Regions from separate parts of the Homo sapiens genome. Here region 1 is linked to region 2. A link means that fine-mapping ties the variant in region 2 to the expression of a gene that starts in the linked region. Tissue or cell type: whole blood. Region 2 holds a variant in brackets; the other region holds the start of a gene. Each region is shown on its reference strand, or each on the opposite one. Region 1 holds the start of CDHR1 (cadherin related family member 1). Region 2 holds the start of LOC124907866 (a long non-coding RNA gene).

Region 1 (5,249 bases), not on the chromosome of region 2:
CTCTGTAAGTGAGGGTCAGGTCCCATGTCTCATGGCAGATGAGTCCTACTGAGCCTTGACAAGCCAAGACCTTCCATACTGCAAGGTCAAGATCAGGGTCCATGGTGAGAACCACCATAAAGAGCTGCTGTTTTCCCAGGTCCTTAGGTGATTTGAGGACAGGGTTGTATCTAGGGTGACCGCCAAATACCAGGTTACCTTAGGCTTTGCTGGTTTTAGCATTGAAAGTCCTGCATCCCTGGAAACCCCTCAGTCCCAGGCAAATTTGGGCAGCTGGTTACACTAGCAGATCTGAACCTAAAACAGCTGAAGGAAGCAGCAGGAGTTGGAGTGGGGGGTGTGGAGGGTCTTTCTCAGACCCTTCTACATCAGAATAGAAGTCAGATGTAATGGTGCTGCCTGTATTCTCAGCTGCTCAGGAGGCTGAGGCAGGAGAGTCTTTTGATCCCTAGAGTTCAGGGCCAGCCTGGGCAACATAATAACACCCTATCTCTAAAAAGAAAGAAGAAGAAAATACAAAGTAAAATACAAAACTGGGGCTCTGGAAGGAATGTGTGATGTGTGAGTGAGAGGCCTAGAAGCTGAAGCTTCAGTAGATTCAAGATCATCTTCTTCTGCCATGAAAAGGGTTTGAACCAGGCGGGCACAGTGGCTCATGCCTGTAATCCCAGCACTTTGGGAGGCCAAGATGGGTGGATCACCTGAGGTCAGGAGTTCAAGACTAGCCTGGCCAACATGGTGAAACCCCGTCTCTACCAAAAAAAAAAAAAAGAAAAAAAATTTGCTGGGCATGGTGGCGTGCACCTGTAATGCCAATATTTGAAAGGCTGAGGCAGGAGAATCACTTGAACCTAGGAGACAGAGGTTGCAGTGAGCTGAGATCCGCCATTGCACTCCAGCCTGGGTGACCGAGTGAGACTCCAGCTCAAAAAAAAAAAGAGTTTGAACCTTCTTTGGAGCCAACCCAAACTGTATGTGAATCCAAGCTCTGCACCTCAGAGAGAATAAGTCACTTGCTTGGTCGTACACAGCCAATGAGGAAATCTCCCTCCTCTGCAAAGCAGAGAAAATCACATTGGGAGAGCAGTGCAGGTCAAATAAGATAATATGGGCAAATATACATAAGCACACATACAGCACATGGCATGTAGGCTACTCCTTCCCCTTCCCTCTCCAGTGCATGGCTGTTGACTGAGGGAACTGAGGAGAGAGAAATCAACGGCCCTAGATTGGTGAGGAGCAGGGCTAACAGGACCCAGGGAGAGCTGGCTTTTCTCGGCCCACCAAGACATCTACTCCAGGAAACCTTGGCTCTGCCTCTGGCTCCTGGGAAATCCACGGCAAGACTCAGTCTCCACATCCCTATATGGGACTTGCAGAATACTTGCCTTAGCTTTGTCCCAGCACTTTGGGAGGCAGATTCAGAACATCTGTGCAATTTAAAGTGTGTCTTTTCAGCAAAAGAGCCAAGCCTAAGGAGACTCAACAAGGGTTTCGGCCAATTAGGCCTGAAAACTGCTGCACATTCTAAAACCATTGATTCATCTTCCTTCTTCTCTGCAAATCCCTGACCCTTGCTCACAGTAGATCATGTAGGGCTAGACCAAGGGATGGGGGGTGCTCTGTTCCCTCAAAGGCCCCTGGCAGGGGGAGGGGGGGAATGCTGAGTCCTCAGCTGTGGAGACCTCTCCCAGGAGCACACAGAGGAGGGATCTCCTCTATCTGAGAACACATCCACCCAAGGGCATCCTGGGAAGTGGCCTGGCTTGGGCTTGAAGTGACCTGTACCCCCATAAATGGCCCAACCAGGAAAAGGAAAACAGGCTGCATTTCCAAGCACCCTCCAGTGTCAGAGCAGGAGAACGAGGAAGCCCAAGGAGCTTTACCAGCAGCCAAAAAGGTTCCTGGGCTTACCTGTGTCTTCAAGTTATCAGCATCCAGGACCCCAATAGCAGTGCCTTGCTTTGTGTAAATACCCTCTAGGAATGAGATCTCGTGCCTCTCGGGCAGTTCAGATCTATCTTGGCCAGCTCTGTGCAAGTCTGTCCTAAGATGGGGCTTAACTCTGCCTTCAGGCCCTTCACTCTTCCTTGGAAGGTTTGAAGAGTGGGTCAGCTGCCCCTTCATGGTCCCAGACTGGGCACTGACTGGGAATGGGGAGCAGAACTGCCTCTCACCCTGGTGGACACCTGAGGGTCCTCCCTGCTGCCCACCACACAGATCAGACCCTTTGGGAGAGGTGGTCCAGCCTGGGGAACAGGGCAGGAATGGGTTGAGATCACAGAGAGGGGGTCCTGATAACCCCTTACCATCTGCTGCCCATCCATCACCCTTTCTCTTTGCCTTTGGTCTCACGCGGCTTATAGAACCTGCTTAGACTGCTAAGGCAAGGCCCTCTCGGCCGCTCCACTAACTTTTCTTCTGGAATGCTTAGCTCAGAGAAGACAGCTAAGCCCCTGAAAGTCACAGAGGAAGTTGATGAGAAAAGAAAACTGCGAAGCCCAAGCCCCACCAGGACTTAAGTACCCTGGGAAAGCCTCAGGACAACTTGGGGGAAAGACACTCCTGTCCCCCATGGTGTCCTCCTGTCCAGGACTGGGGGCCGCCGGCAAAGGGGGCGTGGCGGGCGGGGAGTCCTCTTGTCACGCCCTCCTGCCCCCGCCCGCGGCTGGGAGCCTGTCGCTCCGCTCTGCGCCGCTAATTGGTCTCGTCAGGCGGCCGGCAGGAGCAGATCCGAGCCGTGTCATCCTCTTAGCGCCCTCACGCCACCCGCCGCTCCCGCCCCGTGCCCCCTCCCGCCGCGGCTGCAGTCGCCGCTACCCCCATTGTGGTCTCTGCCCTCCCCGCGGGCCCAGGGCATGCTCCGTGCCCCTGCGCCCGGTCTCGGCGGCGGCAGGCGACACTCCGCGCCGGCGGAGACATGAGGCGCTGCCGGTGGGCCGCCCTGGCCCTGGGGCTGCTGCGCCTCTGCTTGGGTGAGTGGCCGCTGGGCCGCGCTGGCCGCGTGGATGGCGAGGGAGATGGGCGCTGGCGTCACCCAGGTGGCCAGAGGGACATGGTCCTGGACCACTTCCAGAGTGGGACTCGGGCTGGTGGACGGGAGCGGAGAAGTCCTTCCATCTTCCTGGCCCATTCGGTAGTGGGGAGTGGGGTAGCGGAGTAGTGGGGAGCTCCGGGGCGCTTCTCCAGAGCTGGCATCCTAGGGCCCCAGGGTTTGGCGCCCGGACCCCCGCTGCTCTCCGCTTGCTGGGAACCAGAGCTGTAGGCTTGGTGGCAGCTCCGATGCTGCGTGGGGCAGGAGATAGTGCCCTGACTCGCGGCTTGACCTTGGCTGGGCTGGGGCACTGCCCCTCTCCGAGCGCGGGTGCAATCTGCCCATTGATGAAGGAGGGGTTGGATTGCTACCTGGGTTCTAAGCGCCCACATGCTACGTGTCCCTGACAAGCCCGAGCCCACCGGGGGCGGAGTGGGGGTCAGGGGCATCCTCTGGGCGGCGCCCCAGTGGGGTCCCTCGGTGCACTTGGGTTGGGGAGGCGGAGCGCCCTCCTGCCCAGTAGCTGGGCCTGACGCGGGACCGCGCTGGTGCGAAGCTCCCTCCTGGTGTCTGGGTGTCCTTTGCCTGGGTGTCCGTCTGTTCTGTGTTCTTTTTCCAGCTCAGGCCAACTTCGCCCCGCACTTCTTCGACAACGGGGTCGGCAGCACCAACGGAAACATGGCTCTGTTCAGCCTCCCAGAGGACACCCCTGTAGGTGAGTAGCCCTGGCACCTGCTCCCGATAGGTCTCCCTGAGGGGTGCAGGCAGACTTAGAACACAAAGTGCCCCAGGCACCACCCAAGTTGCTGCGCGCGCCCGGGGGCTCCTTGTTTGCTCTCCGAATTCCCCTGGGCAATGGCAGGAAAGAAGGTCATTGCTGCCATGGCGACTTAAGTCTGGCCAGTCCTGGAGACCAGGGCTCCCCCCCACAGACAGGGTCGCCCCGCGAGGCAGGCAGCTACAGCTGCCCCTTATGGCTGTGTGACCTTGAACAAATGTATTTACCTCCCTGAGCCCCAGGTCTCTAGGCTTTAAAACGGCCTAAGAACATCCAACTTGCTGAGATATGCAGAGAGAGGGGAGGAGAAAGGGGAGATTTCACACTCCTTCTCCCTCACTTTGTGGGTAGTGGGAACCCGGGGAAAAGGGAGAGCAGAGCAAAGTAGGCACCTGGCTCAGAAATCCCTGCAGAACCAGGTCCAGGCATCGGGGACAGTGGTGCACTGTGGGTCACCCCTCCTGCCTTAATGGCTGCTCCCATTTCCCCTTCCCTGTACCCAGGAGCCCCTCAATCTTGGATCCTGAGAGAGGAGTTATTACCAGGCTGAGCAGAACATAGGCACTACAGTTAGGCACGGCAGACCTGCACCTGCTCTGTAACCCGTGTTATAGATTACAATCTGGAAAGTGGCTGATCATCACAACCACCCGCTGTGAAGAATAAACATACAAAGAGGGAAGCAGCCAGCAGGGGTGAGGCCAGCAATGAGCACCAAGTTCAGGGCAGTACCTTTGGCACTGAGTTGAATAGTCACTTTATAAACAGCTGAATCGTTGGTCCTGAGCATCTGCCACTTTTAGGAAAAGTTGGGTCTCAGATTCTATGTCTCTCCACTGTGTTTCCTTCCAGGCTCTCACGTATACACCCTGAATGGGACAGACCCTGAGGGAGACCCCATCTCCTACCACATCAGCTTTGACCCCAGCACTAGAAGCGTCTTTTCTGTTGACCCCACTTTTGGAAACATCACCCTGGTTGAAGAGCTGGACAGAGAGGTATGGGGAGGTGTGGGGAGTGCTGCGGGGCCACTGCCTGTAGACAGACCTCGGTGGGCTGAAGTTCCCCTGGAGCACATTGGTTAGAACCTCTCCACAGAGTAGGGGATGAGGGGGCACACCCCAGGCACATCCACTCTGTGAGATCTCTGGGCCACTTCCCATCAGCAGAGTGGGCTTTACTTTCATGCTCCTCCTTCACACAGAGCGAAGAGTGGGCTCCTTTAACGAGCACCTGCCAGCCCTGCTAATCTTTTAAGCATGTTCCATTAAAAATAAATCCGTTTGCACTTTGAGGTTTCTGAAAGAAACCTCACAAAGTGATTTTTCAAGCCTGTCCTGGGAGAGGCACAGGAACTCAGAGCAGGTCAAGGCTGGAAAGGGTGGTTGGCAGTGAGTCTGAGTTTGGCAGAGCTCCTCCACTCTACACACTTGAGAA
Region 2 (5,483 bases):
CATGAATGAGAGTCAGGAGCCATCAGGGTGGTTTGCACGGGGAAGAGGGGCTAGGCCTGGTGTGGTGAGGAGGAATGCAGGCCATAGGCATAGGGCTCCAGCAGGGCCAGGCTCAGAGTGGTGGCAGCAGTGGGCATGGAGGCTGGGAAAGAGCGAGAAGTTCTCCAGAAATCAAAGTGGCAGCACTACTGTGGGAAAGTGGTGCATCCAAGGGACATCATCGTACAAGAGTCAGCAGGCATGGGGTCCTGAGGGAGAAATCAAAGAATCAGGCTCAGTGGCCTGGTGGCTGGAGGATGATAGTCCCACAGAAATGGGAAAAAGTTGGAAAGGGCTGGCTTGGTATGGAAGTTGACTGGTTTGGATTGGATGTACAGAGTTCAAGGTAACTTGAAGTGGGTGCTATGTCTATGATAACGAAAAGTATCATAGTGGAGTCCAGTGCACAGGCAGTGAGAAGTATGAACACAGGGTCACCACAGAGAGGAGAGAGCTGTCAGTGAGAATCCAGTAGCTCTCTAAGGAAGCAAGTGTTTCAATTTCCCTGACCTGCACTAAGTAAGATTCTAAGTTACAGCATAAACCTTTACCAAATAAAATAGCCACCTTAAAAAGGTGATCTAAAGAAAACCTAGCACCTGAATTTGTAGATTATTCTTTAGCCATCCTCAGACAGTAGTCAGAGATCAATATGTTATCACACCAAATCAGATCACAGCAAAAGTCCAAAACTGAGGACGGAGTTGAGGGAGAGAGGTCTTGCCTCCAGGGTCTTTCCCAGGCAGGTGTATTCTGAATGAGTGACAGCAAAAGCATTCGTGTAAACTTAACACAGCTTGGGCCCTTATCTCAATGTACAAGTTTCTGCTGAGCCACTTTTATAGGCAAAGTTAATTTTTAAAAAAGATTAAATTGATGATTCTATGTAATTAACACTGGTTTCTGCCAATTGAAGACTGGGTGGGTATATGCATTGGAGAGCATGTGGAAGGCAACATTGATCTCTCTATGGATCCCAAGTATGTCTTGACTGGATAGAGCAAAATTTAAACTTGGAAGAAATAATCAGCACCAGATACAACTGATAGCAGTCAAGATGGCATGGAGTAATTTAGTCAGAGATGAAAGCAGTCTAAGGAATTCTATTTTAGAGTAACATTGAAAACTACAAACAACCTACCCAGACAATATTTTCTTGATGAAAATTCATCATTGCTGATATAGTTCTCTTTAAAATATCTGTATTTGTAGACATGACATCCAGGCATGCTTGAGGTCAAATCATTGGAATCAGACTGTCCCTCAGCCTTGAGGCTGAGTTTAGCTCTGCCCACCTTTGTGGGATCTGCGGGAGTTGGGATGGGACCAGAGGGCAATCAATGTCTTTATTGGCTGGATGGGTGGGCTTGGGATGTTCAGTTGGAGGACTGAGTTTTGCTCTACTCAAAGACAAGAGGCAGAACTCTTCCCAGCAGAGAGCAATGAAAGGTCATAGAGGGTAAAGAGTGAACGCAGCTTTGAGTATAGCAATCAAAGGCTAAACTAGTTGGGTTAACTTAGTAAAAGCCTTAATGCGTGTCAAATAAGTGGTTTTAAATCTGAGGGTGGCAGAGAATTGTGGGAGCATTTTCAAGCATGAAACAATGTAGTCAACACAGCCTACAGGAGGGCAGTCTGTGACTTACACCAAAATAAAAATTGGTCACCACATAAGTGAGCCTTTGATGAGAACCTGGCCATAAATATGAGAAGGGGAATGTAATTTTGTAAATTTTCTAGATTAATATTCCTAGAGCTTTCATGGCCAATTTCAATGGATTACTAAAACTTTTTTTTTTTCTCGTAAATCTTCTTGGGTTTCTCTTCCCTATTCTCCTTGAGAAGGTTGGTTGGAGAAAGACGACTTTATATATTTGGGGGAGTTTGTGGGGTTTGAGTCAACACTTGGGGCCATACACCAAGAGAAGAGTTAAAGCCATGGAAATCATGATGGAAGATTGAGATTTTTTAAATTAGCACTGTCAAATTTACAAAGGCAGGTGGAGTCTTCTCAATGAAGGTCCCAGGAAATGGAGATAGAGTGTCATCTCTGGGGACAAGATGACCCAAAAGGAAGCTGAACCCAGGACCTCCTGGCAGTTTAGGGAGGAGCTTTGCTGATGGGAATGGCCTTGTACTCTACTGTAATGACTCTGTCTGATGGGGTGGAGAAGTCACTGTACGGGGGCCCCTGACCCATGCAGGGGACAGTTGGGGAGCTCTGCCATGTCACCAAGGAAGGACGGACAGCATGCTGTTTACGTCTGTTATAACCACAGTGTCCTCCTTCACATCAGAAGGGCTCTGAGGCGGAAGTGAAGTCATTCACAATTTCCATTTCTTCCCTTCCAGTTACCTTAGAGCAGTTCTCCCTAGCAGTGAAGAGCTGTCCTGACCAAGAGGACCAGACTTTGTTAATGAAGGTAGGTTATCAGATAAAGAACTTATTTCCTAAAGGCTCAGAGCGTTTTTATTGCCCTGAGGAGAGTTTCATTTTTACAAGCGGGAGTAAATTTATCATGTCTGAATCGTGTGCTCCAGGGGGATAAGCTTGTCATAGGCGAATTGGAGGGTTGCTGGTTAACGAGCACCACTGCTGCCTGCGGAGTGCGGGAAAGTGACAGGAGAGTGGGTGTCCACATGAGTGGGGAATCTGTTTAACTCTCCAGAGGGCTCAGTTGGTTCTATTTAAACTTATCTGATGGAGTCTTGATGCTTTTTTAGCAGATTTATGAGGCTTGGCCAAATTCCACATCTCCCACTATATTTTTAATTAAGACAAAGGATTCCATACGTTCCCAGTCTGCTGCTTCCTACTTTTGGCACCTTAAGGAATGCTACACAAATTAGACTGTTCATATTCACCACCAGAATGAGCATCTTATGTCATAGATTCCTTGCCCTTGAGTGGAAGACAAGCTTCTTCCCCCCAACCCCCCGCCCCAAGGAACAGTTGTTTTATTTCCTTCCAAGTGACAGGAGCAGAGGCATTTCCAAATGGTATAACCTGCACTTAGGCTGCCTACCTAGGTGAGCCAAAAGTGTGGAAAACCCTGGCAAGCTGCCCACCTGGATTTAATTAAAACTTTGTCTTTGAAGCAGAGAGCAGTAAACAGCAGCAGATCACAAAGGTGCACACACATACTTTCCCACCACTAAGACTCATGCTTTCACACAGAAACCTTGCAGACTGACCTTGAGGTACAAATATTTCCATGATGTCACTTCAGTGCT[G/A]TACCACCAGGAAACCGCGTGCACCAGGAATTGCATTTCTTTATCTAAAAACCAGCTTCTTTACCAGGTGTCCTCTGACTTTAGAAATGGGTGGAAAAAAAATAGGGTGTCACTCTGAGGGATTTTCAACTCATTTGCCTAAGATGTGATATTTTTGGTCTTTAAAAAAAAAAAAGCTTTCAGTGATGTTAGTTTTATAATAAAGAAGCGCTGCTCATACCAAGTGTTGGGTTTGTCTGGGAACCCTGATTTTTCAGAGTCCTGGGCGTCTGATACACTGACTTAGAATGATATAGATTCAGGCACATGGGCGTTTCTTGTTTGCCACGCTTAATTCTCTGTTTCCTGCTTTAAGTTCTATTCTGCAAGGACCTTTCCTTCCAGGTGCAGGCTGGCTTTCCATGACCTTGAAGCAGCTCTTGGGCCCTGGATGCTCACCTCTTTTCTCTGCTCACCGGCCTTTGGTCTTTCTTCCCTCTATCCTGTGTTTTCTCCTACCATTTGCTTCTTGCTTCTCTCTTGTTCTTCTCCTACTGTCCATCTCTCCCCATTTGCAGGAGGTGAAGCTCCTGGGCTCCCCTGGAGGTTACATGGGCATCTCAGAGGCATTTTGGGGTACAGAGGGCAGCGACAGAGCCCAGCCCCAGAGACCACACCTCCAGGCCTGCTTCTAGTGGTCCTCATGGCCTCCCCGACTTGGGATGCCGCAGCCCCCTCTGAGTTTCTTCACATCTAGAGTGAGAGGTGAAAAGAGATGTAACCAAAGGCCCCTCCTCCTCTCACCATTTCACCTTCTTGCTGACTTTCATGGTGCTCTGGCTGGCTTCTCTAGCACATTCGGTTAGAAACTAACAGATTGGGGTTGGGAGAGGAAGGCTAAGATGGCCTGAGGTTTCCTGGAATTTGCGTGACCTCCAGTGGCGTTCAGTATTTTGTGTCTTACCTGTTGGTTTCTGCAGACTGTGTGGCCTCAGCAACAGAGGATGATTTATGTGGGCGTTTTCTCAATATTTGCAAATATTTGAACAGGCATCATCAAAGAAAGAAGTTTCACTGAACAAAAACGTGTGCCGAGTTCATATATACTGAAACTATTTTATGATTTTTTTTAGGAGATTGAGGTTTTCTAATGTCACATATCAGAAGGCACCATGTGGGTGTGACAATGGTATGCTGGGTTTTTGTAGATGTTATGTGAGAAAACCTATTCAGGGTGACAGTAGATTATTTTGACTACAGTCAGCCTGCAGGTGATTGTATGTTTGCTCTAGTGAGCTATCCACTTTGCAGACTGTCTGAAATAAATTCCCACATTTAACTTAACCTCATGAAAACTTGTTGGAGGCAAAAAACGTAGATCTGGGCCAAATATGATATATATTTTTTTGAGACAGAGTCTTCTTCTGTCACCCAGGCTGGAGTGCAGTGGCGTGATCTTAGCTCACTGCAACTTCCACCTCCTGGGTTCAAGGAATTCTCCTGTCTCAGCCTCCCCACTAGTTGGGAGTACAGGTGTCTGCCACCATGCCTGGCTAATTTTTTGTATTTTTAGTAGAGATGGGGTTTCACCATATTGGTCAGGCTGGTCTTGAACTCCTGACCTCAGGTGATCCACCCGCCTCGGCCTCCCAAAGTGCTGGGATTACAGACATACGCCACTGCGCCCAGCTGATATTTTTTAAAATTATATTTTGCATGCATTCCTGCATTGTCAAACATTCCAATGTTGCATTCTACATTGTCAAGGGTAATTGAGATCTGAGCACAAATATTTAAAGGGGTACCATTAAAAATGCAGCTTGTATGGCAGGCATGGTCCATGATTGTCCCAGGCAGCCTAATTTTGACTCAAGTCAAAAGCCCCTCCCTCAATCACATAGCTCCACCTTGCCTAACCTGAGAAGATGCTCTATAGACAGACTGCCAAGAAGATGCAAGAGATGAACTTGGTTCATCAGATGGCTGAACCAAGGTCAGATTCCCCTGCAAAGACAAAAACATTGAGATTTTGAAGATGGCATAAGCCAGAACATTCATCTGACAACCAGGAAAAGCAGGAGGGACAGGAAAACAAGTGACTAGCCACCATTGCATAGCTAGTCAGCCGGCAATAGAACTAGGACCAGAAAGCTGGGCTTCTTCCTGCGGGGCCCACTCAGATGAGCAAATTCATAGAAAATTCCACCACTCCACCCCTTCAGCACCATGAG

The links. PIP is the estimated chance that this variant, and not a neighbour inherited with it, causes the effect.
Region 1: CDHR1 starts here. The variant in region 2 is fine-mapped to the expression of CDHR1 in whole blood (TOPMed, PIP 0.96).

What each region holds. Positions count from the first base shown.
Region 1 is chr10:84,191,841-84,197,089 of GRCh38, forward strand. CDHR1 (cadherin related family member 1) reads left to right here and starts at 2,697. Exons shown (of 17, transcript NM_033100.4): 1 at 2,697-2,975; 2 at 3,654-3,749; 3 at 4,665-4,810. The coding sequence starts at 2,921. RefSeq lists silencers at 2,593-2,722, 2,793-2,912.
Region 2 is chr2:111,046,827-111,052,309 of GRCh38, forward strand. It overlaps ACOXL (acyl-CoA oxidase like), which reads left to right. Exons shown (of 18, transcript NM_001142807.4): 16 at 2,392-2,462. It overlaps LOC124907866 (a long non-coding RNA gene), which reads right to left and starts at 3,351. Exons shown (of 2, transcript XR_007087182.1): 1 at 3,235-3,351. RefSeq lists an enhancer at 3,026-3,320 and a silencer at 3,026-3,320. The variant G/A (reference allele first, on the strand shown) is at 3,274.